4 linked regions of the Homo sapiens genome follow. The protein of the gene in region 2 interacts with the protein of the main gene of each other region in a biochemical or structural test. Each region holds a gene or a part of one and is shown on either strand. Other genes may lie near its edges. The genes, in order: MYBPH, ROCK1, CDC25A and SMAD5.

The links.
Region 1: the proteins of ROCK1 (region 2) and MYBPH form a complex in vitro, tested with the Homo sapiens proteins (one study listed by IntAct).
Region 3: of the proteins of ROCK1 (region 2) and CDC25A, one has a biochemical effect on the other in vitro, tested with the Homo sapiens proteins (one study listed by BioGRID).
Region 4: of the proteins of ROCK1 (region 2) and SMAD5, one has a biochemical effect on the other in vitro, tested with the Homo sapiens proteins (one study listed by BioGRID).

Annotation. Positions count from the first base shown.
Region 1 is NC_000001.11:203,167,311-203,172,862, forward strand, and holds the end of MYBPH (myosin-binding protein H), read right to left. Parts: intron 4,731-5,552; coding exon 4,642-4,730; intron 4,269-4,641; coding exon 4,073-4,268; intron 3,891-4,072; coding exon 3,751-3,890; intron 3,141-3,750; coding exon 2,981-3,140; intron 2,080-2,980; coding exon 1,943-2,079; intron 1,783-1,942; coding exon 1,596-1,782; intron 1,366-1,595; coding exon 1,349-1,365; 3' UTR 1,317-1,348; intron 782-1,316; 3' UTR 501-781; downstream 1-500. UniProt on the Homo sapiens protein: Binds to myosin; probably involved in interaction with thick myofilaments in the A-band.
Region 2 is NC_000018.10:21,038,809-21,045,844, forward strand, and holds part of ROCK1 (rho-associated protein kinase 1), read right to left. Parts: intron 6,660-7,036; coding exon 6,484-6,659; intron 5,379-6,483; coding exon 5,294-5,378; intron 3,902-5,293; coding exon 3,757-3,901; intron 3,428-3,756; coding exon 3,289-3,427; intron 756-3,288; coding exon 664-755; intron 1-663. UniProt on the Homo sapiens protein: Protein kinase which is a key regulator of the actin cytoskeleton and cell polarity.
Region 3 is NC_000003.12:48,164,411-48,171,446, forward strand, and holds part of CDC25A (M-phase inducer phosphatase 1), read right to left. Parts: intron 3,535-7,036; coding exon 3,436-3,534; intron 1,484-3,435; coding exon 1,421-1,483; intron 1,325-1,420; coding exon 1,226-1,324; intron 28-1,225; coding exon 1-27. UniProt on the Homo sapiens protein: Tyrosine protein phosphatase which functions as a dosage-dependent inducer of mitotic progression. Directly dephosphorylates CDK1 and stimulates its kinase activity. Also dephosphorylates CDK2 in complex with cyclin-E, in vitro.
Region 4 is NC_000005.10:136,177,845-136,183,269, reverse strand, and holds the end of SMAD5 (mothers against decapentaplegic homolog 5), read right to left. Parts: 3' UTR 537-5,425; downstream 1-536. UniProt on the Homo sapiens protein: Transcriptional regulator that plays a role in various cellular processes including embryonic development, cell differentiation, angiogenesis and tissue homeostasis.

The sequences.
Region 1 (5,552 bases), on a different chromosome or scaffold from region 2:
AGGACTTGCTTCCAAGCCCTTCCCTCTGTTGGAAATTGGGTGTGCCCTGGCTCCCAAGGGAGGCCCATGTGACTAATAAAAAACTGTGAACCCTGTGGAGAGCACATTGCTGGGCGCCCATCCCCACCACTGTTGAGGGCAATAAGACAGCTTCAGCAGACAGGAAGCAATGACGGGGGCTGGGAGGAGCTGCGAGAGGGGGCACGTGGAGGCGTTGGAGCAAGGAGGGTTCCAGAGAGGGTGTGTCTGTTTCCATAGTTACGCACTGGCGGTAGCAAACCCTGATCAGAAAGGGAGATCCTGAAAACTCACAGGTCCAGAACACCCCCCATCCCCCCACCTCCCTGCCCCAGCCATGACATCCTGAGACCTCTCCCATTGGCATCTTCCTCTTGGTGACATATCTGGAGACCCCCTCATGGTGAAACATTCAGACACCCCCCCTCCTCGTGACACAGCGCCTCCCCCAGATGATGTCGCTCACTGGCACAGAGGCCCCGCACTGTTAACACCACGCATCTTTATTTGAGTGCTTCCCACCCAGAGTGCAACTCCGCAGGGCACTCCAATCTCTGCGCCTTCCAGCACCCCTTGAGCCCAGTTAGTCTGGCCTGGGGCCTACCAGGCCCATTCCTGAGTTCTGGACACCAGCCTCTGGGGAAGGGAGGCCAGCAGGTACCAGGGGCGGTTCCATCAGCCGTCGCTATGGAAGCGGGGGTCTTGGGCATCTCTGGAGTTTGACTGTAGGCCTGGTGGACCTGGCCCCTCAGGCCTGCAGCACCTGGAGGAGGACATGCTTCCTGAGCCCCTGGTGTGAGCAGAGCTCGGCTGCAGGCCAGAGAGGTGCAGAGTGGGGAGGGGGAGCAGCATCCTCTTCCTCACCAGGCCTCCCTCCCTCAGGTGCAATGCCCAGGTCTGAGCTCTGCCCACTGCAGTTCTAGATACTTCCGTACTTATGCAGAGCCTCAGAACCACCAGGGGAAGGAAGGCAGGGAAAGGTTGTTATCCCCAGTTTTCGGATGAGAGAATGTGTCCAAAGAGAACACCCTTGCTGAAGATCACTCAGAGCTGGGAGTAGACTCTGGTTGTGTGGCGGTCCACGGAATCACCCCCCTTCCAGGAGACACCGGCATCGCCTGGCCCTGCAACATCACTGTGAGTCTCTGGACATGCGTGCTAGTTGCCTGTGTCCACAAGTTTGTGTCCACAGAGCTGACCACCACCTTCCCTTCTCACCCCAACCCCCTGCTCCTGGCCTCCTCTCTGCTTCTGTGCTGCCCACAGAGGTAACAGAGTGGGTGGGTCAGGCCATTTACCTGGCTCCTCATCACAGCCTCCTCCCGTGACTTCAGTGTGCGGCTGAGGCTGGAAGAGATGCTGCAGTTAGAGCTTGGGGGAAGTGGCGGGGAACTGGAAAGTTCACGGTTATACACCCTCTTCTACACCTGTCCACCCTGCCGCTTGGAAAGTAATCAGCACAGCCTGACCCCAGTCTTACCACCCCTTCTCTTCGGCCTTGATTTTAAGCTGTCTGCTGCCTCTAGTCCAGTTCCAGAGAGGTGCTTACTCCTGTTCTCCCGTCCTCAAACTCTCACCTTTGACCTCCAGCCGGCAGTCCACAGATGCCTCCCCCAGCACATTTATGGCCTTGCAGGTGTAGACCCCAGAATCAAAGGGGCTGGGTTTCCGGATCTCTAGGGTGCAGACGCCTTGCTCAGAGAGGGCGCGGTATTTGGGGTTGCCCTGGATCTCCATCTTGTTTTTCATCCAGATGATCTTGGGCTGGGAGACATGGTCAGAAGAGAGCTGGGGAGGTATGGACTGGGGCGGGGCTCTCAACAGCTATCCCCAGGCTTAGGTGTGGACGCCCGGAGGATTCCTCAGCCCTGCTGTCCCCACCTGCCCCCACCAGCCCAGGGCACAACAGGGCCTGGCCCCTCACCTTGGGTGAAGCTCGGACACTGCAGAACAACTGGGTGCTGTAGCCAGGGGTGGAGGTGTGGTCAGCCAGGGGCTGGGTGAATGAGGGGGCTTCTGAGAAGTCTCGCTCAATAAACCCTTTAGGTTTGGCAGCAATATCTGGGTTCAGGGGAGAAAGTCGGGTGCATCTGAGCTTACAGGAGTGAGGGAGACCTGTCAGGACTGACTATGATTCAAGATCTATGGATAGCAAGTCGTGGCTTATTTGCAGGAACTTGGACAATCTCAAAGAGGCAGAGAAAGCTGAGACTGTAGCTGGGTGGGTCAGGGTGATGAGTAGAGATGAGAAGGTGGAAAAACCAGAGATAAGAGCATCTTGGCAGAAGATGGATGCTAGCAACTCAGAGGTGCCACGTTTCCTTTGGGTTTGTCGTTGGAGACTTGACTGGCTTTCTTTTTTTAAACAAAAGTTTCTTCCTAATTCTGTGCAGTTCAGGCTAGTGTTAAAAAAAGTTTGCCTTCTGGAACCCACACAGACTGTGGGTCGGAGAGGGCCTTGGGGCACACAAGGGACAGGGAAAAGGGCCCGGGGTTTAACATTTGACGCAAGAAGGTCAGGTGCCTGTGTGGAGACAGTAAATACTCCTATCTCTCTTGTCCATCTATGTGGTATGTATTAGGGTTGGGAGGCTTGTTTTAGCACACTACCCAGCCATGCGCAGGTCACCCTTTAGGTTCCCTTCGGACACTCACTGCCTGAGACTCGGCGGCTGCTGTGATGCTGGCAGCCACACACCTCTTTGGAATAAGCACACAGCCTCCAAAGGGGCATCTTTCATTTGTGTGGATTTGCTCTGATGTGTTTGTTAAAATCAGCCAACCACATTCACTACTTTGCAGCCACTCCATGTGTGTGTATGCATAGCCGTGGAGTGAGGAGACGGCAAGTGTTCCAGGGGCAGACGCCCAGGAGAAACCCAGAGAGAGGGGTGCAGAGACGCGGAGGAAGAAGCAGAGACAGGGAGAGAGTTAGCACAGCCAGCTCCGGGCCCAAACCCACCTGCCTTCTGGATGTGGGCGAGCTCCTTGGTGACGGTGGCCGAGGTGCTGAGTCCACACAGGTTTTCTGAGAAGACCCGGAAGGAGTACGAGTTGCCGATGATGAGGTCAGAGATGGTGCAGGTGGTTGGGTGGTAGCGCTCCAGCACTGTGAACCATTGCTGCAGGGCCCCGGGTGTCACCCTCATTTCTCACCCCTGTCCTCACCCTCCCTGCTTACCCTGGAGACCTTTCCTCACAGGAACTCATTCCATGCCCCCAACCTTAGGATGCTGAACCATCCAGCTTTGGGCCTCAGGGACATTGAATTGGAAGAAGGGGCCCCTGGGTCACTCAGGTGACCTCTGTAGGGTCCTCAGAGAATCCTAGAGCCTTTGTGTGCAAAGTGTGGCCCATGGATGTGCAACTTCAGCATCACCTGGAAACGTCTTAGAAATGCAGGCCCTCAGCCCCCACCCTGGACCTACTGAGTCAGACTCTGCCTCTTAGCAAGCTCCCCAGGTGACTCATGTGGACATTAAGATTTGAGAAGCATGGCTCCAGAACTTGAAAGGCTTCAGACAGCCCGGGCCAGCCCTCTTCACAGTCTTCAGGAGGCATCTGAGGTCCAGAGAGGAAGAGTCTTGCTAAGGGCCTCCTAGGGAGTCAGGTTAGCAGTGGGCAGACCAGAACTCGATCCCTAGACTCGGTCCCTAGACTCAGTGGGATGGGCCTTCCCCACCACCTTGACCACTTCGTACCCCGACCCCACTTTGCCTCAGCCAGCCTCACCCCTGTCTTTTTGTCTGCCTTCTGCACCATGTAGCCCAGGAGCTCTGTGTTGCCTGTGTCCTGGGGTGGCGTCCACTGAAGAGCAGCATTGCAGCCCCAGACGTCCAGGAGCCTGATGCTGCTGGGGGGTCCAGGTTTCTCTGTAGGCCCAGAGTGTGAGAGGAAGTGAGTGTGAGGGCCAGGCTGGCCACAGAGCCCCCACACCCAAAATTTGGCTCTTGCCACACTCCCTTGGCCTGCTCCCATCAGCCATCAGCTCTGGGATAGGAGGTTGGGGGCTCCAGGTCCCCCATGAGACAGCACTGTTCCCCTGGCTCCATACCAATCACCAGGATGTCAATGACTGCCTTGGCCTCCAGGTCTTCCACGCGCACAGTGAGCTCGTAGCGGCCAGAGTCGGAGCGCTGGGCCGAGCGAATGAAGAGGATGGAGTCCTGGTCCCCGGTGCGCATGCTCACCCGCTGGCTGTCCAGGGCATGGCCGTTGTGGGTCCATGTGGCCTGAGGCTTAGGCTTCCCCTGGCAGGGAGGAGCCCCCAGGGTGAGTGTAGGGAGGTGCCAGAGTCCCCACACCTCCTTAACTCCAGGAGTCTCTGGAGCTGTTCTCGGGGAAGCCTGTCCCACTGGCCCTTCTCAGGAGGGGCAGCAGAGGCTGGAGCCACAGGTGCTGCCCACAGCCACATCTTCCAGGTGTCCATCCCGCTCTGGGGGCCCACCTGCCCATCCACAGGCTGAGAATCACCAATGAGTCATGTGCATGATTGCGGAAGGATGAAGCCGTCTCGCTGGGTCTCAGCTGGACCCTTGGAGACCCTGCCATCTCCCAGGCTCCCCTTAAATGGGGGCCCTGGTTCCCACCCAGGCTGTTACCCTTGGTGGGGGTAATACCCACCTGGAAGGGGATTTGCAGGTTGACCGTCTCTCCCACCTGGCGGATGTAGGTCTGACGGAGGTGGCGGGGGACACGGATCTTGGGGGCCTCTGGATCAAAGCAAGAGTCTGGGCTTAGCAGTGCAGTGGGGTGGCTGATTGGGGTTTCTGAGATGGGGCAGGGGACAGCTGGTGAGGGATGCTGGCTGGGAGGAGGGTCCTGGGTGTGCCTGGCTGCCATGGGGTCCCTCCTTGCAGGAAGGGTGAAGCTCTCACTCCTGAGGTCTAGGGGCCCAAATCCCTTAAGGGAGCAGGAGGTTTCAGGAGGTCAGCGCCTCCATGGTGTGAACTGGTAAGCATCCTGGGCACTCCCTTGGCGCCTCGACTCTGCCAGGATGGGATTTGTCCTGCAGCCCAGGCATTCCCAAGCACCAGATGGGCCCCAGCTGACTCTCTGTCTCCCCCTGCTGGGGAGCAGGTGCTGCACCTGTCAGGCTGCACTTCTAGGAAGGGGAGGCCACTGCCGTCTTCCTGCTCTAATATCCCCAGCTCTCCACAAGCCCAGGACTTTCAGAGAAGCCTTTGTGAAACCCTGTTTGTCCATTCCTCTGTCTCCAGGCCCTATTGAAAGGTTTAGGATCTTTCTCTTCCCAAGTGAAGCCAGGGCGGGTATCCCCCCTTCTTCCTCTGTCACCCTCCCAAAATCTGTTAGTCTCAGAGCCGGGAAGTCCTTCTTGAAGTCCTATTTCAGCTGCCTGCTATGCTAAGGAATGACATTCTGACCCTCATCTGGTCAGGGGCAACCACTGAAGCCCCTGGGCATTCTAAGGGAAGCTGCAGTGGCCACCATCCCTGTCCCCTGGGGTGGGTGCTGGGTCCATGACTGAGGCTCCTCAGCAGCAAACAGGTGGCAGCAGTTGGTTGGTGGCATGC
Region 2 (7,036 bases):
TCCACGAAGATGATGAGAACCTTTGGTGTCATGATAATTTTGATTCAGCTATGTTGTAGAGTTTTCTGTGAATCATCTTGTAATTTTAACTTTTTTTAAAAAGTAAGAAAGTGTTCTAAACTGACTGAAAATTAGTTTCTTATACAATACATTTTTGTTTCTGAATTGCCAGCTGCAAAAGCCTGATGGAATCAAGTATATCACAATATCCTATAAACTCATAAATAAAATTAAATTGAATTCTGGAATTAATAATAGAACCTTCTTATATTTTGGGTTTTAATAAAAACAAGAGAATAACTTGTCTTCTCACAAAAACATATATTTTAATCTCATTACTTACTACTTATTGACCACCTCCATAATAAGATAACTAACGCCTAAAATGAACAATTCAACAAAGATCAAATGTAAAATTATGACTGGTGAGCCTAAATCCATTACATTTATATTTCATCTGGGTATCCTGCGTGGGACATAAGAGGAGTAACAATATAATCTGCCCAATATTATCAAATTAATAGGTTAGGACAATTCCCATATAGTATTTGTGGCTTCTGATTTTCATCAGATACACACAAATATTTAGCAATGTAGTTTCAACAAACTACCACAACTACTTTCAAATATTCACTAAAATATGAAAGAAAAAAAAAAACTTACTGTCTCGGAGCGTTTCCCAAGCCCACTGGTCATTTTTGAAGAAGAGATGTCGTTTGATTTCTTCTACACCATTTCGCCCTAACCTCACTTCCCTGAATAATGACAGAAGGAGAAAAGTAATCAATCATTTAAGATCTTATTATAACCTGTCCAGGTTTATTTGTGGGCAGGATATTAAATCAGTGTAGGACGACAAATATAGTTCTAAGGTGAAATTATATTGTCAGCATAGTATCAGCCCAAATAGAAAATATGTTAAAGATTGAGAACATTAAAGAATTTTTTTAAAAGAAAACTAAAGAAAGGCTGGACATGGTGGCTCATGCCTATAATCCCAGCACTTTGGGAGGCTCAGGTGGGGTGGATCACCTGAGGTCAGGAGTTCGAGACCAGCCCAGCCAACACTGTGAAACCCCATCTCTACTAAAAATATAAAACTAGCGGGTGTACTGGAACACGCCTGTAGTCCCAGCTACTTGGGAGGCTGAGACAGGAGAATCGCTTGAACCCGGGAGGCAGAGGCTACAGTGAGCTGAGATTGCGCCACCGCACTCCAGCCTGGATGAAACACAGCGAGACTCCGTCTCAAAAAAAAGAAAACTAAAGAATAACTACAAAAAACACCCATGACTTTTCTACTGACAACAAAAATCCAGATTAATCACCACCTTACTTCATTAGCAAAATGAATAAAGCACCATGCATTTTCTTGACAGTTTTTTGTGTGTGTGTGTTATTTTTTTCTTACAATGGTAAAGTTAGGCTTTTTTTTCCCCAACCAAAACTTTACTTAGGCAGCAATACCAGATGCTACCAAAAACCTCCAGAAACACATTTAAAATTTTGAACTTCCAATTTATAATCTATTAATTATTTCTGACCATTCAAAAGCCAATGACTACTAATTCTTGATACTGCCACAGAATTCAGAGCTTTCACTGGACAAGTTACTGATACCAGCCTCTTTTTTGGTGAGCAAAAAGTTTTTAAAAATGTGATTTTAGCTGAATTGGAAAAAGAAAGTTAGCACCTTTTTTCCCTAGTACAGTGCTTATAAATAAAGAAAATACTCTAAATTCTAAGTTTTTGCATAAGCTAAAAGATAAGTTGGCTTAGACATGTGACAATTTTTCCAAGAAGCTTTCACTAACTCTCAAACTGGATTAGAAAACCTCTCCATGGTTCTCCGGCACATGGTACTTATCTCATGGTAATTAGCTGTGTGTACTATAAATGTCTGATTTGCTTATCTAATTCCCCCAAAGGACTATGAGGTATTTGAGAAAAGTGGCTCTGTATCTTCCTCACTACTATATCCCTAGCACCTAATAAACAGCATAATACAATGCTTTATATTAAAATGTAAAAATTGGCCAGGTGCGGTGGCTCACACCTGTAATCCCAGCACTTTGGGAGGCCAACGCAGGCAGATCATGAGGTCAGGAGTTCAAGACCAGCCTGGCCAACATAGTGAAACCCTCTCTATCAAAAATACAAAAATTAGCCAGGCATGGTGACAGGAACCTGTAGTCACAGCTACTTGGGAGGCTGAGGCAGGAGAATCACTTGAATCCGGGAGGTGGAGGTTGCAGTGAGCCGAGATCATGCCACTGCACTCCAGCCTGGGCAACAGAGTGAGACTCTGTCTCAATCAATCAATCAATCAATGTAAAAATTAGCCAGGCATGGGTGGCTCAGGCCTGTAATCCCAGCACTTTGGGAAGCTGAAGTGGGAGGATCACTTGATCCCAGGAGTTTGAAACCAGCCTGGGCAACAGAGCAAAACCCTGTCTCTATTTAAAAAAAAAAAAAAAAAAAAAAAGTAAACATTTGAAAAACCATACTTCAAGCTCTAAAGGACATAATGAAGGGAGACAAGTTAAAGCAAATCTCAACTTGAAACATATTTAAAAGTACTAGGTCTCCCTAATATTTAACAATATACAATCATAAACATTAAATATAATCTTACTAATACATCTGGTTCACTTTCAAATTTCAAAAGTAAACCACAAAGGTATATATAATATGCCATTTTTCTTTCAAAAATGCAGACAGACATTATTATTAAAATGCTTGTTGGATCTACAAGATGGAACACCAACTATTATGTCTAGAAGAAAAAAGATAGTATACTTTTAAAAATGGCTTTATACTATTGACTCTTTCAACAACCATATACCATACATCATCAAATCTAAAATGGTTTAAAGTATAAGGTGTATCACCGTTTTTATACCACTATGAAAAAGGATGCTCCCAACTCATACCATTGACTGTGAGATGTACTCTAATTTCAGAGATGTTATGTTAAAAAATTTTTTTAGATTCAGTAAAATACACAGTAATTTTTATAATTAACCAAGTTAAAAATTGAACAATAAAAGAAAAAAGTCATCTAGTTTAGCCATCAGCCAAGACTGTATTATTATCACAATTTCTTAGGTATGATAAGTGAGTTGAGATCTACAAAAGACATCTAGAATATCATAAAATTACATCAGGTTTCACTGTCATTTATATTCTAACAATTTACATGTAGAAGCTCAGATATGGACCTTAAAAATGGAGCAGAAGATGAGAAGTCCTCAGAATTAATACAGGCTCAGTTTTAAAATTATTTACCTGTCAGTAAGGAAGGCACAAATAAGGTTTTTTGCTTCTTTTGATATGTCATTATCATCAGGAAAGGTAAGTGAATTTTTATGGTTCATAATTTTACTGTAAGTTCCAACCAAAGAATCTGCATAAAAAGGTGTATCACCTGAAAAATTGATAAAGAAAACAAAAGCAAAATGAAATACATTTTTAAAAAGTCAGTTTCAAAGGAAGAGTCAAAGTTACCCGTTTAAAAAGATTATTAGGTATGTATTAAACTAAAAACATACACCTAATATATAAAAGAACACATCACAAAGTTGCTCTAAGCCTCTAAATGCTTTTAAAAACACATACGAAGCAGGTTTGGATCATGTTTATTACCCACAAATAAAATCAAGATTGCTTAATATAATAAATATATTAGAAAGAGCCAAGTGGCAAGTTTTGAGATGAACAACTGTAATAGAGAGACATAAAATCTTCCTTACTCACCTACAAGCATTTCGTATAAAAATACCCCAACCGACCACCAGTCACATTCTCTTCCATAATAACCATCACCACCTTGGGATTTTAATACTTCAGGGGAAATATAATCAGGTGTTCCAACCGCTGTATCACATCGTACCATGCCTTCCTAAAAAGCGCGGCAGGTCAAATTTTGAATTAGGATATAAAGTCTCAATTATTTAAAATGACTTTCTTATTAATATTACCTATGGGACTCCAAATCTTTGAGCTATAAAATATCATATATTAAAACTGAATGGAAACCTGACAAAAATTAACACAGCTTAATCATATATATACATACTATATACACACCATATACATATATACCATATAATGTATGTATGTGTATACATGTGAATGCATATACACACACATTATATGTGTATTCACATATATACACACACCAGTGATTATTTTGTAATAATGCTCACTAGAAAAACATACTGCCACATTTATTATTCCCCAAGTTGTGCCAATATCATGAAACCATTTAACTGCTGAGAACAAGTACACAGGCCAGTGCAAATACACTGGGGAGTTCATAGGATAGGGCATTTTACAACATATTGGTATAAACACTGACTTCATTATTTTCTACTAAAATAGCTATTTAACTATGTTTGAAACTACAAAAGAAACATACAAAAGCTGACTGTACAAATACAAACTGGGGAAGCATATGTATGGGAAAAGGGCATAATAGTGTAAAGCACACTGAATGTCTATTTGATGTGAATTTTAACTGCCCTCCCCCAACAAACCTGAGAGACTTGTTAGCTGTTACCTATATTCGCTGGTATTAATGAAACAGCATTATAACTAAATGTTCATACAGAAGTTCTCATGCAGTGTTTCCTTCACTGTGTATATGAAGTGAAGGAATAACATATACACAGCTCCTTCAGCTCCTTCAGCTGTGTATATGTTATTTATTATATAAATAACATATTTATTTATGTTATTTATTATATGTATATACATATACATAATGTATATGTATATACATATACATAATATGTATATACATATACAGCTGTGTATATGTTATTTATTATATAAACAGTGAGGATAGGTATCTTTTAAGACTCACTCCTAAAATAAGCAGTAAAATCTTTTATATGTTAACTGAAGTAAAACACTAAAAAATACACACATTACTGGAATCCAATTTTTATGAAAGTCTAATTTTAACACTGGCATAAGTATTTAGTGACATTTAAGCTAATTCCATTCCTAGTTACCAGTAGTGTATATTAGAGTTGTTATGAAGGATTTAGTAAATCTGGCAATCCATATTTACCCTAAATAGAGAGGAAAAAATAAATCACTAACAAGTTACTAATACAACATTGAAACCATGGTATCTAGTTCAACAAATAAGGTCATATTAATTCTGGACAAGTCCAGCTATGGTTAGTAAATTCTTACACCATTTTCTAAAGAATTCTTAAACCATTTTCTAAAGAAGCATCTACCTTGAATTAGCAAAAACTAAATTAAAATCTAGTTAATTAACCTTATTCATCTTCATACAAGTACCAAAATCTGCTAACTTCAAATGTCCAGATTTATCCAGCAGCATGTTATCAGGCTTCACATCTCTGCAGGAGGGAAAAAATAGTACAGTATTTTCTGAAACAGATTAGACACTGTAAAAATTATATGAGGCAGTTATTTTAGGTCAAGCATCCTCAATCTAGGTAAGGCCATCTTTGATCTGTATGTGTTCTCTATCCACATCTATAAATTAAATTTCATCAAAGAAACTTCTTTATATGTTAATGCCTCAGAAGAAAACATATATATTCCTTTTTTAAAAGTTTCATTCTTTCAGAGGGAAAATCAAATCATTTGAGAGAGACAGACCATCAAAAATACAACACTCAGACATAAAAGGTGATTGAAACATATTAGATAGGTAAGTACATAAAAAAACCCCACGGCAGGGTCTAAGTCACTTTCATTTTTGATCCCTGACATGTAGGCACAGCAACTGCACACAGGATTCAAGCAGTGTTTGTACAACAAATGAAACTATTCGTCTAATGAATAAATACGACCTATTCACTAATTAAAAGCAAATTAAGTTACATATTTAAAAAATTAACATCAAAGTGTTTAACTCCTGGCACATACCTTAGAAAACTAGTTTACAAGTTTTACTTTTCAGAACACCATTTAAAGGCTATATGATCAGATTAAGGGATATTAAAGAATACATTTATATCAACATTAAATTGAAATGCTAAAATTATAAACTTCAAAGTTTGGAGTTCTTTTTTTCCCCCCTTCCTGACATAGAATCTCACTCTGTCACCCAGTCTGAAGTGCAGTGACTAGATCTCAGCTCACTGAAACCTCTGCTCCCAGGCTCAAGCGATCCTCCCACCTTAGCCTCCCAAGGAGCTGGGACCACAGGTGCATGCCACCACACCTGTGTTTTTTTTTTTTTTTTTTGTAGAGATGGGTTTCACCATGTTGTCCAGGCTGGTGTCAAACTCCTGAGCTCAAGAGATCTGCCTGCCTCGGCCTCCCAAAGCTCTGGGATTACAGGCGTGAGGCAGCGCCTGGCCAGAGTCTTGAGTTCTGAAAGGTCACTTATGTCATACGGAAGAAGAATGGGTGAACTGAGAGTAAGAAATGTTAAAGTTATTTTTAGCTATTTCCCTCAACAAATGAGAAAATTTAAAGCACTTTTATCTTTACCTGTGAATAAAACCCATGGAATGGATTGCATCCAATGCAAGAACTACTTCTGCAGTATAGAATCGTGCCCATTTTTCAGGCACATCATAGTTGCTCATTAAGTTTACAAGATCTCCACCAGGCATGTATTCCATCACCATGTAGAGATAACGATCATCTTGGAATGCATAAAAAAGCTATACAAATAGAAAAAACAAACAAAACACATTCATTAATGTTAAACAAAATTGTTTCACTTAAAAAGTGGCAAAAATGTTAATAAAAGATTTAAGTAAAATAATCAAATTACAGAAGTTGCAAGTCTAGTTTTAAAAAAAGACAAACATAAATGCCACAAAGACCCTTGTATATGCAAAATGACTATAACATAATTATTCAGAAGAGTTACATGGAGATATCCTTTCTTCATAATTTTCTACACTATTTGAATTTCTTTTACTGAGAATTTTTTTAAACTGTAATATTTTCAGTAAATATACAAATCTCCTAGGCAAAGAAATACTGTATTTCTAATTTAACTTGTGCATCAGTGGGGTCTACTATTAAATTTATA
Region 3 (7,036 bases), on a different chromosome or scaffold from region 2:
TTCTTCCATGTGCAAGTTCACTGCACCCTGTGAAGACAACAGAGACCCTTGGAACCTGCACGTTTCACACATGAAGTAATGATTCAGCAAGATGTAATGATTCATCAAGAGTGATCTTTAAGTCCACAAGACCAGTTTGTGATTTTTGCAGTTCTTCTAGCTGAATAGCCCAGTAGACCATTTGGCACCTGTATCTCAATGGAGCTTTGTGGGTCCGTACACGTTCATCATACAGTAATGCACATGGGGACTGGAAATGGGCAATTCAAATATGACAATGGTACACTTTATAGGTAGTTTTATAAATTTGGGGATTTTCAAAAGCCACAAGACAATGGCAAACAGTAACATCGTATTTAAAGTACCTCCTTACTATATTTAAACACTATTAATCGGGTAAAACATTAAAATGGCAGGCCAGGCGCCGTGGCTCATGCCTGTAATCCTAGCACTTTGGGAGGCTGAGGCGGGCGGTTTGCCTGAGCTCAGGAGTTTGAGACCAGCCCGGGCAACATGGTGAAACCCCGTCTCTACTAAAAAAAAAAAAAAATTAGCCGGGCGTGGCAGCGTGCACCTGTAGTCCCAGCTACTTGGAAGGCTGAGGCAGGAGAATTGCTTGAACCCAGGAGGCAGAGGTTGTGGTGATCCGAGATCATGCCACTGCACTCCAGCCTGGCGACAGAGCGGACTCTGTCTCAAAAAAAAAAAAAAAAAAAGATTAAAATGGCAAAATCAGTTCCTTTCTTCTTGGGAACGTGTGTCCCAACACGCCCCTCCACCAGGCAGCTTGCTGAACAATCAACTTTGGAGGCATCACTAGGCCTGGCACAGACACCAGGACATGTTGCCAGAGATGGTCTTCTCCTCATCAGGAGCCCTGGGGTGCTCAGACATTGGTACCCAAGCCTCTTAAATGCTATGAAACCCATTCTTGTCCCCCGAATGACTTAAACATCAGTGGGTACCTCCTACAAGTGTCCTTGATAATGATGGTGTGAGGGACAAACATGAAGAATAACTGTGCACAAGGTGGTAGAGAGTATTGCAGACAAGGGAACATTCGTTAAGAGCACCCGGAATCAAATGCCTTCCACACTCACTGTATTGTTTCAAAATTCTAACAACTAGCATATGAGCTAAGTGGCCAGGTGTCACTGTCCTCCCCACTTTAAAACCACAGATCCTGTTTAGGGCTCCTTCTACAGCAAGTCTCAGGAATCCATACCTTGATGTGGCCTCCCTCGTATTCATATGGGTATCGACAGTCGATGATAACAAACTCTTTAATGAGGTTGGCAAACTTGCCATTCAAAACAGATGCCATCTGTTGAGAGAAAATTAGGGAGAATCAACTTTGACCGTCAGGGAAAACTAGATTCAAGTACCCGATGTGTGGTGGGTTTCAAAAGGATGGACTTACAATTTCTGGAGAGATGTATTTTAAATCCTGATGTTTCCCAGCAACTGTATGAAAGAGATAACCCTTAAAAAGAAAAAAAGATACTTAGAGAATCTGAAAGCCTATATATTATTCACACTTATACTGTTTTGTCTGGCTGGTAGGAGGCATCTTTTAAAAAACAAACATTAATGGCCAGGCACGGTGGCTCACACCTGTAATCCCAGCACTTTGGGAGGCCGAGGCTAGTGGATCACCTGAGGTCAGGAGTTCGAGACAAGCCTGGCCAACATGGTGAAACCCCAACTCTTTTAAAAATACAAAAATTAGCCGGGCGTTAGCATGCACCTATAGTCCCAGCTACTCGGAAGGCTGGAGTGGGAAAATCGCTTGAATCCAGGAGGCGGAGGTTGCAGTGAGCTGAGATTGCACCACTGCACTCCAGCCTGGGTGACAGAGCAAGACTCCCTCTCAAAAAACAAACAAACAAACAAGCAAACAAACATTAGTTAGTACACACTAGTTACTCTTCTAGTTACTTCATTAACATCCTGACATTTAATTTTCACACAAACCAATGAGGTATATTATCCCCATTTTGAGCACCTTATCCAAGGTTACCTAGCTAGTAAGGCAGATTTAAATAAAGAAACCTCAGGTAATCTCATTTTCCTCCTGCTTTTGTCAAGAATCCACACGTCAGTAGTTAGACTGCGAATAGCACTTAAACATACAGATTTCACTCATTTACTGAGCACCTGCTATGTCCAGCATGGTGCCAGGCACTGGGGATAGGAAAAAAAGAGACCTAGCCCAGCCTTGAGGAGGAAGATGCACACATTAGCAATTACTCATTAGGGTGACTGGCTGAGCCAAGAGTTCATCTATCCCCATGCATAGGCCCATTAAGACAAATATAACCAGGCCTCAATTCAAGTTGAAAATTCCACTGAGTGTGGTGGTGCATGCCTGTAGTCCCAGCTACTTGGGAGGCTGAGGCAGGGGGAGCACTTGAGGCCATAAGTTTGAGGCTACAGTGTACTATGATAGCATGTGCGAATAGCCACTGCACTACAGCCTGAGCAACATAGTAAGACCACATCTCTCCCTGCCAAACAAGAGAAGGTTCCAAAACTGAGGATACAGCTGGATCTTTGCTTGTTCTCTTCATTCTCCGTTCCTTCAAAACCCATTTGGGCTGAAATATCAACGGCCCAACCCCAGACGTTCCCCAACCCCCTAGCCAAGATAAACCCTTTTACTTCTCACGGCATGCTGTTTATGTTTACACCTCACTAAAATTTATTTCAGTCTACCATGTGGTACATGTAGTTCACGTCTCACCTCTCCAACCACATGCTAAATTCTTTGAGGGAAGGAACTGTATCTCATTTTGGAATCTCTGCCTAACACATAAGTGCTTCAATAAATGTTAACTAAATTAATGAATAAAACATTGATCTGGTAACCTTCAAGTCAAAATGTGATTAAAGAAGCTGCTATTGACACATTCCCTGTCCTAGCCTTGTATTTTACTGCAGCCAAGCCTTCATGTAGTATATCAGGCTATTAGAAGATCTTCCTCTAGACTTCCTGGAGGGTCTTTTCCCTCAATGGCCAAGCTTCTCTGAACGGAGAAATTCAGTCTCAATCCCAGACCTTCTAAGATAACCTTTCAACATGCAGACTTGTAGTGTGGCTACAGATTTATTTCTGCTGTACACTATCCTGCTAATTACTATTTTTATAATAACACAGTTCCCAGAGAGCCTAGTCTTTGGGTTACAATCAAGGTGGTTGGTGGACAGCTCCCTACCTAAAACTGCCCATCAGCTATAGTGATATCTACAGTCTCAGAAACCAACATATACCTGATCATGAGAAACTAAGTTTGCTTCCCTACCTTTAACATTCTTTTAACTGTGTCCTTTTGGAGGTATGCCAGGAACCACCCTGGGGAGGGAGACAGGCTGAGTGGGATTCTAAATACCCACACTCCCTCCTACACTTGCCAGAGCAGCTCTGCTTGCAATTACCTTGGAGAAGTCTCCTATAAGGTCCCTTGGGTCATTGTCCAAAATGTTCTCAATGGTTCCTTTGGGGGAAGATGCCAGGGATAAAGACTGATGAAGAGTCTGTAACAAATCAAAGGTAGAGAATGAGACAAGGGTTCTGAATGGAACTTCCGAAAACATTCACTTGGAGCATGTCTCGAGGAGACTAAAATGTTAATGCCTACATTTAGTAAGAAGTTTTTATTTTATTTTATTGAATCTGGAGTGAACAAAAACAGATGTGGGTTATTGACTAGGTCTCCTATTATTCCAGTGTCTAACCGAATTGCTCTGAAACTAAGTTTTCCTTCCTTCCTTAAAAAAAAAAAAAAAAAAAGGGGGTGCAGGTGGTTTGGCTCATGCCTGTAATCCCAGCACTTTGGGAGGCCAAGGTGGGTTACTCACTTGAGCCCAGGAGTTCCAGACCAGCCTGGGCAAGGCAGGTGAATCGCTTGAGCCCAGGAGTTCCAGACCAGATCAAAGAGCAAGACCCTGTCCACACACACACACACACACACACACACACACACACACACACACACACAAGCTGGGCATGGTGGTGTGTGCCTGTAGTCCCAGCTACTTGGGAGGCTGAAGTGGGAGGATCACCTGAGCCTGGGGAGGTCGAGGCTACAGCAAGTGGTGATGGTGCCACTGCACTCCAGCCTGGGTGACAGACTGAAACTATCTCCAGAAAAAGAGAAAGAAACAAGGGGGGTTAAAACTAGGATTAAGTTTAGAAAAAGTATGTCTTAACTTTTTTTTTTTTTTTTTTTTAAAAAGACAGAGTCTCGCTCTGTCGCTCAGGCTGGAGTGCAGTGGAGTACAGGAGTGGAGTGCAGGCTGGAGTACAGTGATCTTGGCTCACTGTAACCTCTGCCTCCCAGGTTCAAGCGATTCTGCCGCAGCCTCCAGAGCAGCTGAGACTATAGGTGTGCGCCACCACGCCCAGCTAATTTTTGTATTTTTAGTAGAGACGGGGTTTCACCATGTTGGCCAGATGGTCTTGAACTCCTGGCCTCAGGTGATCTGCCTGCCTTGGCCTCCCAAAGTGCTGGGATTACAGGTGTGAGCCACCGCGCCCGGCCTACGTCTTAGCTTTATTCAATGAGAAGAGGAAGCCAGCTGTTAAAAAGGGGATAATTTGAGTAAAAGGATAATACTTGTAATACACAGAAACACATTAAATGTTTTAACCCATGAATTCCTGATTATTATTGAAAAACAACTATAAGTCTTGCTTTCAACTTTGGAAGATGCTTGGTAGGGCATTATTTGGAAACTGGCAAATAAAGAGATCCAATATTCATCCTGCCTTTCCCAAGGGTAACCACAGTGTTTGATGAGTGTAAGTTTCTCTTTATAGATATATTCTAGCTAATTAATGAGGAAAGAATGTAAAAACTGCAGTATCATCTTTCTGAAACCCTGGTGAAATGAAGTAAAAAATCTGGGCAGCAATCACCAATGGCTGCCTGGCACATTATACTTCCTGATCAAAGTAGACAAAATCACCTATGTGATATTCTTGCCAAACAAATAGAACTGGAATTCAATCCATCCTTTCCAGAGTTAGGTTAAGGCAATATAGGGGATAGAAGACAATGTCTGAAGACCCCACAGGACTGTGGGAACCTTTGCAGGACAAATGACTTGAGCTCTTCAACAAATAAAAATATGCAAGAGGGAAACAGATGGAGCACTGAAATCTGAAGAGTAAGAGACCTATTGACCAACTACAGTGTATAGACTTTATTTGGATCCAGATTTTAACAAATAAACTGTAAAAGTACTTAGGAGACAACTGGGGAAAACTGAACCCAGACTGGATATTTGACATTTGATAGTAAGAAATTTAGCTCTGCCGGGCGTGGTGGCTCATGCCTGTAATCCCAGCACTTTGGGAGGCCGAGGTGAGTGGATCACTTGATGTCAGGGGTTCGAGACCAGCCTTGCCAACATGGTGAAACCCCGTCTCTACTAAAAATATAAAAAATTAGCCAGGCGTGGTGGTGGGCGCCTGTAGTCCCAGCTACTTGGGAGGCTGAGGCGGGAGAATTGCTGGAACCTGAGAGGCGGAGGTTGCAGTGAGCAGAGATCGACCCATGGCACTCCAGTCTGGGCGACAGAGCGAGACTTGGTCTCAAAAAAAAAAACAAACAAAAAAACACCCAGAAATTTAGCCCTGTATGATATGTTTGTGTGAGGAAAACACCCCACAAACTCAAAGTGATTTTTCTTATTCCCTCACTCAACAGCAACAGAAGACAGAAGTGCTGTTACCCCCAGATATGAGGGGATTTCTCCCTACCAGCAAGCAAGCAAGCAAGCAAGCAGTTCTGCAGTGGAAAATAGCTGGGTGCCGTCCAATTCAATTCTGACACTATCTACCTGCAGAGCGTCAGATCAGGAAGTTGAGGGCCCAGTCCTCAAAACCACACCACCCTTCAGACACCAGTTGGGCCTCTGGATCTTCTGATCTACGACCACCAGCTTTAAGTAGGGGTTCCCATGACCCCTTCTTTGGGTTTAATTTGCTAGAAGTGGCTCACAGAACTCAAGAAAACACATTTACCAGTTTATTATGAAGGATATTCAAAGGATATAGAAGAAGACATGCATAGGGTGAGGTATGGGAGAAGGGACATGGAGCTGCCATGCTCTCCTTGGGTGCCCCAACCTCCAGGAACCTCCATGTGTTCAGCTATCCAGAAGCTCTCTGAACCCTGTCCTTTCAAGGTTTTAGGGAGGCTTCATTACATAGAAATGATTGATTAAACCATTGGCCATGAGTGATCAACTTGACCTTTAGCCCCTCTCCTTTCCGTAGATATTGGAGGGTGGGGCTGAAAGTTCCAACCTCTAATCATGTCTCTGTCTTTCCAGTGACCAGTCCCACCCTGAAGCTATCAATCATTAGTATACAAAAAGATATGACCTTGGATATTCCAAAGATTTTAGGAGTTATATGACAGAAGGGGAAGAAGACTAAATATATATTTCACAATATCACAGGTATGATAACTGTACTCTAGCAATGCTTGACATTTTCTCCACAATGGAATTTAAAATACTAAAAATTAAAATATATGAAAATAAACCAAAACATGAGGGCCAATATATATACAAAATAATTATTAACAGTATTATTTTATCCAAAAAAAGTTTTACAAATATGGAAATAAAAAGGTCAATCTCTATTACGGTAAAAGAAAATGAATATTCTGGCCGGGCACAGTGGCTCACACCTGTAACCCCAGCACTTTGGGAGGCCAAGGCGGATATATCACCTGAGGTCAGGAGTTCAAGACCAGCCTGGCCAACTTGGTGAAACTCCGCCTCTACTAAAAATACAAAAAAAATTAGCCAGGCGTGGCAGTGGGCACCTGTAATCCCAGCTACTCAGGAGGCTGAGGCAGAGACTTGCTTGAACTGGGGAGGCGGAGGTTGCCGTGAGCCAAGATCCTGCCACTGCACTCCAGCGTGTCTCAAAAAGAAAGAAAAAGAAAATGAATATTCTTTTTTTTTTTTTTTTGAGATGAAATCTCACTCTATCACCCAGGCTGGAGTGCAGTGGCGTGAT
Region 4 (5,425 bases), on a different chromosome or scaffold from region 2:
CTGCCTCAGCCTCCCAAAAAGCTGGGATTACAGGCCTGAGCCACTGTGCCTCGCTCACCATTCCTTTCTAATTAGAATGAGTTTGCATGTCTTGTATATGTAATTCAGAGGTTGGTAAAAGTGTGCAACACAGTGACAATGATGCAAAGTCAGTCTGTGATTTAAAATTTTTTCAAAAAAGAAGACAAAAGGAAATAAAAAATTGTAAATTCACAAAGTGGATCATCAAAGGTTGATACACCGAGGTCAAGCAACATAAGAAGTAATTATTCTGAATCAAAGAACTAGTGGAAATGTAAAAGATAGTAACAATTTTAATATTTGAGTTCTTATGTTCTAAGTACTGTTCTAAATACTGTATTTGTATTACACTTCAATTAATCTTCCCTCAAATCCTTCCTATGAAGTAGACTTTTCCTTTACAGGTCAGGAAAGTGAGGCATAGAGTGGTTAAGCAACTTGTCTAAGCTATGAGGCCCATGACTCAAACGCAGGCAGGCCAACTCCAGAGCCAAAACAAAAAAAGACACATTAAGCAGGTTTTGAGGTTTATTAAAGTAAAGAATTAGCAAACAATATGCAAAAACAAAGTTCTTAAGAGTTATGGCTTTCAAAAGCACAATATAGTAAAACCTAATACATTTTCATAAGTATCAAAATAACAGAATTGAAGCATGTTGCTAGAATTTCAGCTTCTACAACATAAACAGAAGCACAACAAATACAAATAAGCAGCAGACCTACAGTGCAGCCACTAGCTTGGTCTTCATTATCTGTATATGAAATATCTTTTTAAGAAAATGTGGGCAGGTAGATACAAACATTCTATTTCCATGATTACAATCCTCTTCGATTTTAAAATAAGTGAATTTCAAAATACAACTTACGCCAACCATATTTAAAAAAAAAATCACTTGCCTAACCATTATCTTCTAGAGTTCCTATAGTTAAAATACTTTATGAATAAATCAATGCAACATCATCTTCAATGATATTAGAAGGGAAAATCTGACCCTAAAAGATTTTTTTTTTTTTTCCACAAAGAACTTGGGATTCTTTGGCCTTACTGGAGTTTTGTTATAGCTAACACCAGTCTGTATTAATTAAGAAGGCACTATTAATGAGGGACGGAAAAATCTACCTGTACACAAAATTCTGTACTTTAACAGCATCTTCAAATAAACCTTTAAAGGATAATGGTTTACGATCATTTTAAGAATTTTAAGAACTGAGTTATTTGGACAAGAACCATACAAACCTTTTTCACTCTGCCATGAATGATCGAAGAATCCTGCTCTAGGACTGGATCTTTTCAGAGAAAATAACTTATCACCTGTTTTACTGCAGTTGCTACTAGCAATTATTATATAGCATGTGCTCTTCAAAACAGAAATAAAAATTGATGTGTGAAATCCCTTTCATTGGTTTTGGTAAACCATCCAATTTTGGGCTGTCATTTCAATTATAATACAGTTGTATTTTAAGAGAGAAGATAATCCAATATAACAAAGGCTTGATAAATATTGTCACTCTGTAATCAGGACATACTAAACTGTAATTCAGCGAATTCCAAAGAACTTTCCAGGTTTCTGTCCAGCAGGTAGAATTCTTTGTTTATGCAGAAGAAATGCCTTCAATTCTCACATTCGATTCAGGCATCTTGTGTGATAAGAAAAGCTCCTAAGAATCTTACTTATATCAATGAGAAAAATGCTGCTGCTCTGGGAGACCTGAGATTACTCCCCAAAAAGCTGCCCTAATAATATCTGATACCACCTATAAACCACCACTTAGGAAAACTCTCTCCATAAAAATCACCAAACACTTCTAAAACCACCAGGCTACCTACTACCCTAAGATACTTGCTCATCTAGCTGAACAATATAACGATGACACACATTTATATTCATACCCAAGAGATTAGGTGAGGATTTAACTAGTAAGACAAAGAAGGGATCTGACATTCTTTAAAGTTAAAATGTAAGTCCAAAATATAAGTCATCACAAAAGGCTGAACTCAGTAATTATCAAAAAATTCTTCCTTCCTCATGAAGTAAAAAGGATATTTATATATTTTAAGTGGCAAAGGTGATAATCATCCAAAGTACTATTAAGCAATTGATTAGAAAAAGTATAAAGAAATAGATCTAAATTGGTACATCAGATGTTCTCTATCACAGAAGTACAGCACTTTGATAGGTACTATCAAACTTTTTAGAGTTTCTCTGCTGTTGGAAGAATTTCATTTTTTGTATAAACATTCTCTTCCAACAAAATACTACCACACAGGGGAAGGAACTGTTCCCCACAGGTACCCTCAGGTAATATGGAAGGTTTTTAACATGAACCCCAGTTCTAATCTTGACAACAGATTTCAGGTATGAGTACTTAATAATCACTTCACATCCTGAAGGATATCTTACTCTCAAATGTTATGAAAGGTATAAAATAGCTACATCCTCTATCTGTGCCATTAGATGTGGCTTGTTGAACTGTCTAGTACTCTTACTCTGGATTTCACCTCAGAAACCCAACCAATTCTATTATTTTTTTTATATAGCAACAATACAATGTGAAAAATTATTTATATTCTGACACACATATTTGACATTTTGATTGACGTCTTCCTTAAATCTCCTCTTAAAAAGAGGGTTAGTTTTAGCAGATCAATAACACGCCTACTAGTTTACATTTCACGTCAGCCAGGCAATACTGACCAGACCAATACTGACCAGACCATAAATATTATGTAGAAATGTTAAGCAAATGAATCTCTTATATCTTGCTTTTTGCCAATCAATATCTTTTTGTTGCTTTAATTCATTACTGAGATTTCATTCTATTCTGCTGTTTGCATTACCAAACTGGTTGCAATTTTATTATTCCCAGATTCTGTCTTTTCAGCCAGCATAAATATATTGTACATGCTATGTGATTATTCTAGTGGTGCTAGAATTTTACTATAAAACATTCTGTAGATTAAATTAAAACATATAACCATAATTTGCTAAAATGGTTTCTTTCAGAGGTACTTTCCTTTCACTAGCCAGTTTTTAAAAATCTTACTAGCAAATTTTATCTCCTATACATAGATATATGAAAATCCTTAGGGACTGTAAGAATAGCTGGACTGAATAAAATTTTCATTTAAAGTCCAAGGGTGGGGAGTTGACAACTTTTAGGAGATACAACAGGCTTATAGTTCTCTGTCAAACTCTTAGTTGTTAATAGCTTTAGTACTGTCATTCATGAGACACAACTCCTAAGAGAAAACAAAGAAAAGGCCAATCACGTAAGATCTTGTTAACTCAAGACTGTGACATAATGACCCCAAATAAAAACAATTTTTAATTAACTCACAGTAGAAAACACCAATAAAACAACTCTCTAATTTCCACTAGTTTACTGCAGCCCAATGAAGTTGATTACATACATCAGTCATTCAATTGGAGTAATTTTTTCCTACAAATTTGTTCCAGAGATCATGCCATAAGCCTGGTTAAGTAAAAGAATGATGAAAATGCCAAAGTTCTATCAAGTAAGCAAATATTCTCTTTCGTGTGGCAGACAGAACTCTGGAAGAAACAGAATGCATGTCATGTAATACTTACATTTAAGGCTCAGGTGACTGTCAGAAAGTATTTCTTTTACCCAGCAAAGAACTGTGAGCTGAAACACAAATGGCAGTTCATCTGAAAGAACTAAAACCATCCACTGGCTGCACATTGAAAAAGCAATAAATAATGACACAGAAAACAAAAGAAATTGCATAATTCTTTCCTCGAAAATGCTTTTTTTTTTCTTCACAAGAGCAGAAAGGACAAAGTGGAAAGTCAAACCAAACTAACATTTTAAACAGAAGAATGATATGACTCCATATACTTTCAAAAGGCACCAGAAAATAAAGCTTTCACTGATAGGTAAATTAGGTCATTTTTTTTTTCCAAAATAATTTCTTCATTCTCATGTCATAATTAAGTGTCCATTTGACAGCTCCTGAGAAAAAAACTGGTTCAAAGTTCTTTATCCAAAGCCAAAAACATGATTGATTAAATGGATATTTTGGAGTTCGTTCATGTCTTTTCTCTCTAAAGATTGTGTTTTGGGAGACTAGCTTCCACATAAGTACTTAAAAAATGGAAAAAGAGGATCATCGATAAATGAGAGAAGAGTCTATATTCGTTGATGGGTGAGTGTTTTGTTTTGTTTTGTTTTTTGAGGCAGAGTCTCGCTCTGTCGCCCAGGCTGGAGTGCAGTGGTGCGATCTCGGCTCACCACAACCTCCGCCTCCCAGGTTCAAGTGATTCTTCTGCCTCAGCTTCCCGAGTAGCTGGGACTTCAGGCACGCACCACCATGCCCAGCTAATTTTTGTATTTTTTGTAGAGACAGGGTTTCACCATATTGGCCAGGCTGGTCTCAAACTCCTGACATCATGATCTGCCTGCCTCAGCCTCCCAAAGTGCTGGGATTACAGGTGTGAGCCACTGTGCCCAGCCGAGTGTTTTAAAATCAGCTATCCCTACATCCACTGCTGATTCATTTAGTATCAAATCAGTAGCCTTATCCTTGGGGCCCAACTGAAGAGCCTCCTACGGCTCCAGTGCATAGGTCCTTGCGTAGGGAGGCTGATACAAGTAAGCTGACACTTGTAAGAGCAATGGGATTAACTACATGATTCTCCAGCACTGATAACACCCATAAAACTGTAGGGAATTAAAAAGGCACCTTAAGTTGGAGCTATAGAATAACAGTCTTATAACCTAGGTTGAAAGTAAAACAAAAACCAGAAAAAAGCATAACTTCCTACAAATGTAATCTATAAATTGCAGTGTTTGTTAATACAAAAAAGGTACCAAGGACGTAAGGATAAGCATCTAAGTCCAAGTCACTTGAGTGTATTTTATCAAAGGTTATGCTAAAAACTGTCACCCATAAAAGTGCAAAATAAAAGATTAATGCATGTCAAAAATAGAGTTCTTGCAACATTGTCCAAAAGCAGCAAACATAGTTGAACAAGGCTGTGCATGCACTGTCACTAGCTATAAAGTAATGCTTATGACAGATTTTGAGTAAATGACATATACTTGAGATCAGTTATTTGCAAAAATTTTTTTAAAAAAGGAAATGTCTTACAAAAGATATATAGCATGAAGTCACATTACACTGAAGAACACTTATCTGTATTAAATGTAAATTTTATGTCATCTAGAAAACTATCATTTTGCTTTTACTGAACACTACCAGTTACAGCAGTGCATAGTGTTCATTCAAATAAAACTTTATAGTTTCTTTTAAGCCCCTACCATACACTTTTGCAAAACAATGAATTGTACTTTTTTTTTTTAAGTTGGTGGGACAAAGAAACTGGTAAAAGTACAGCTTCTGGAAGATCGAGAGTAGGAGGGAAAACTTACTCTTCACTGT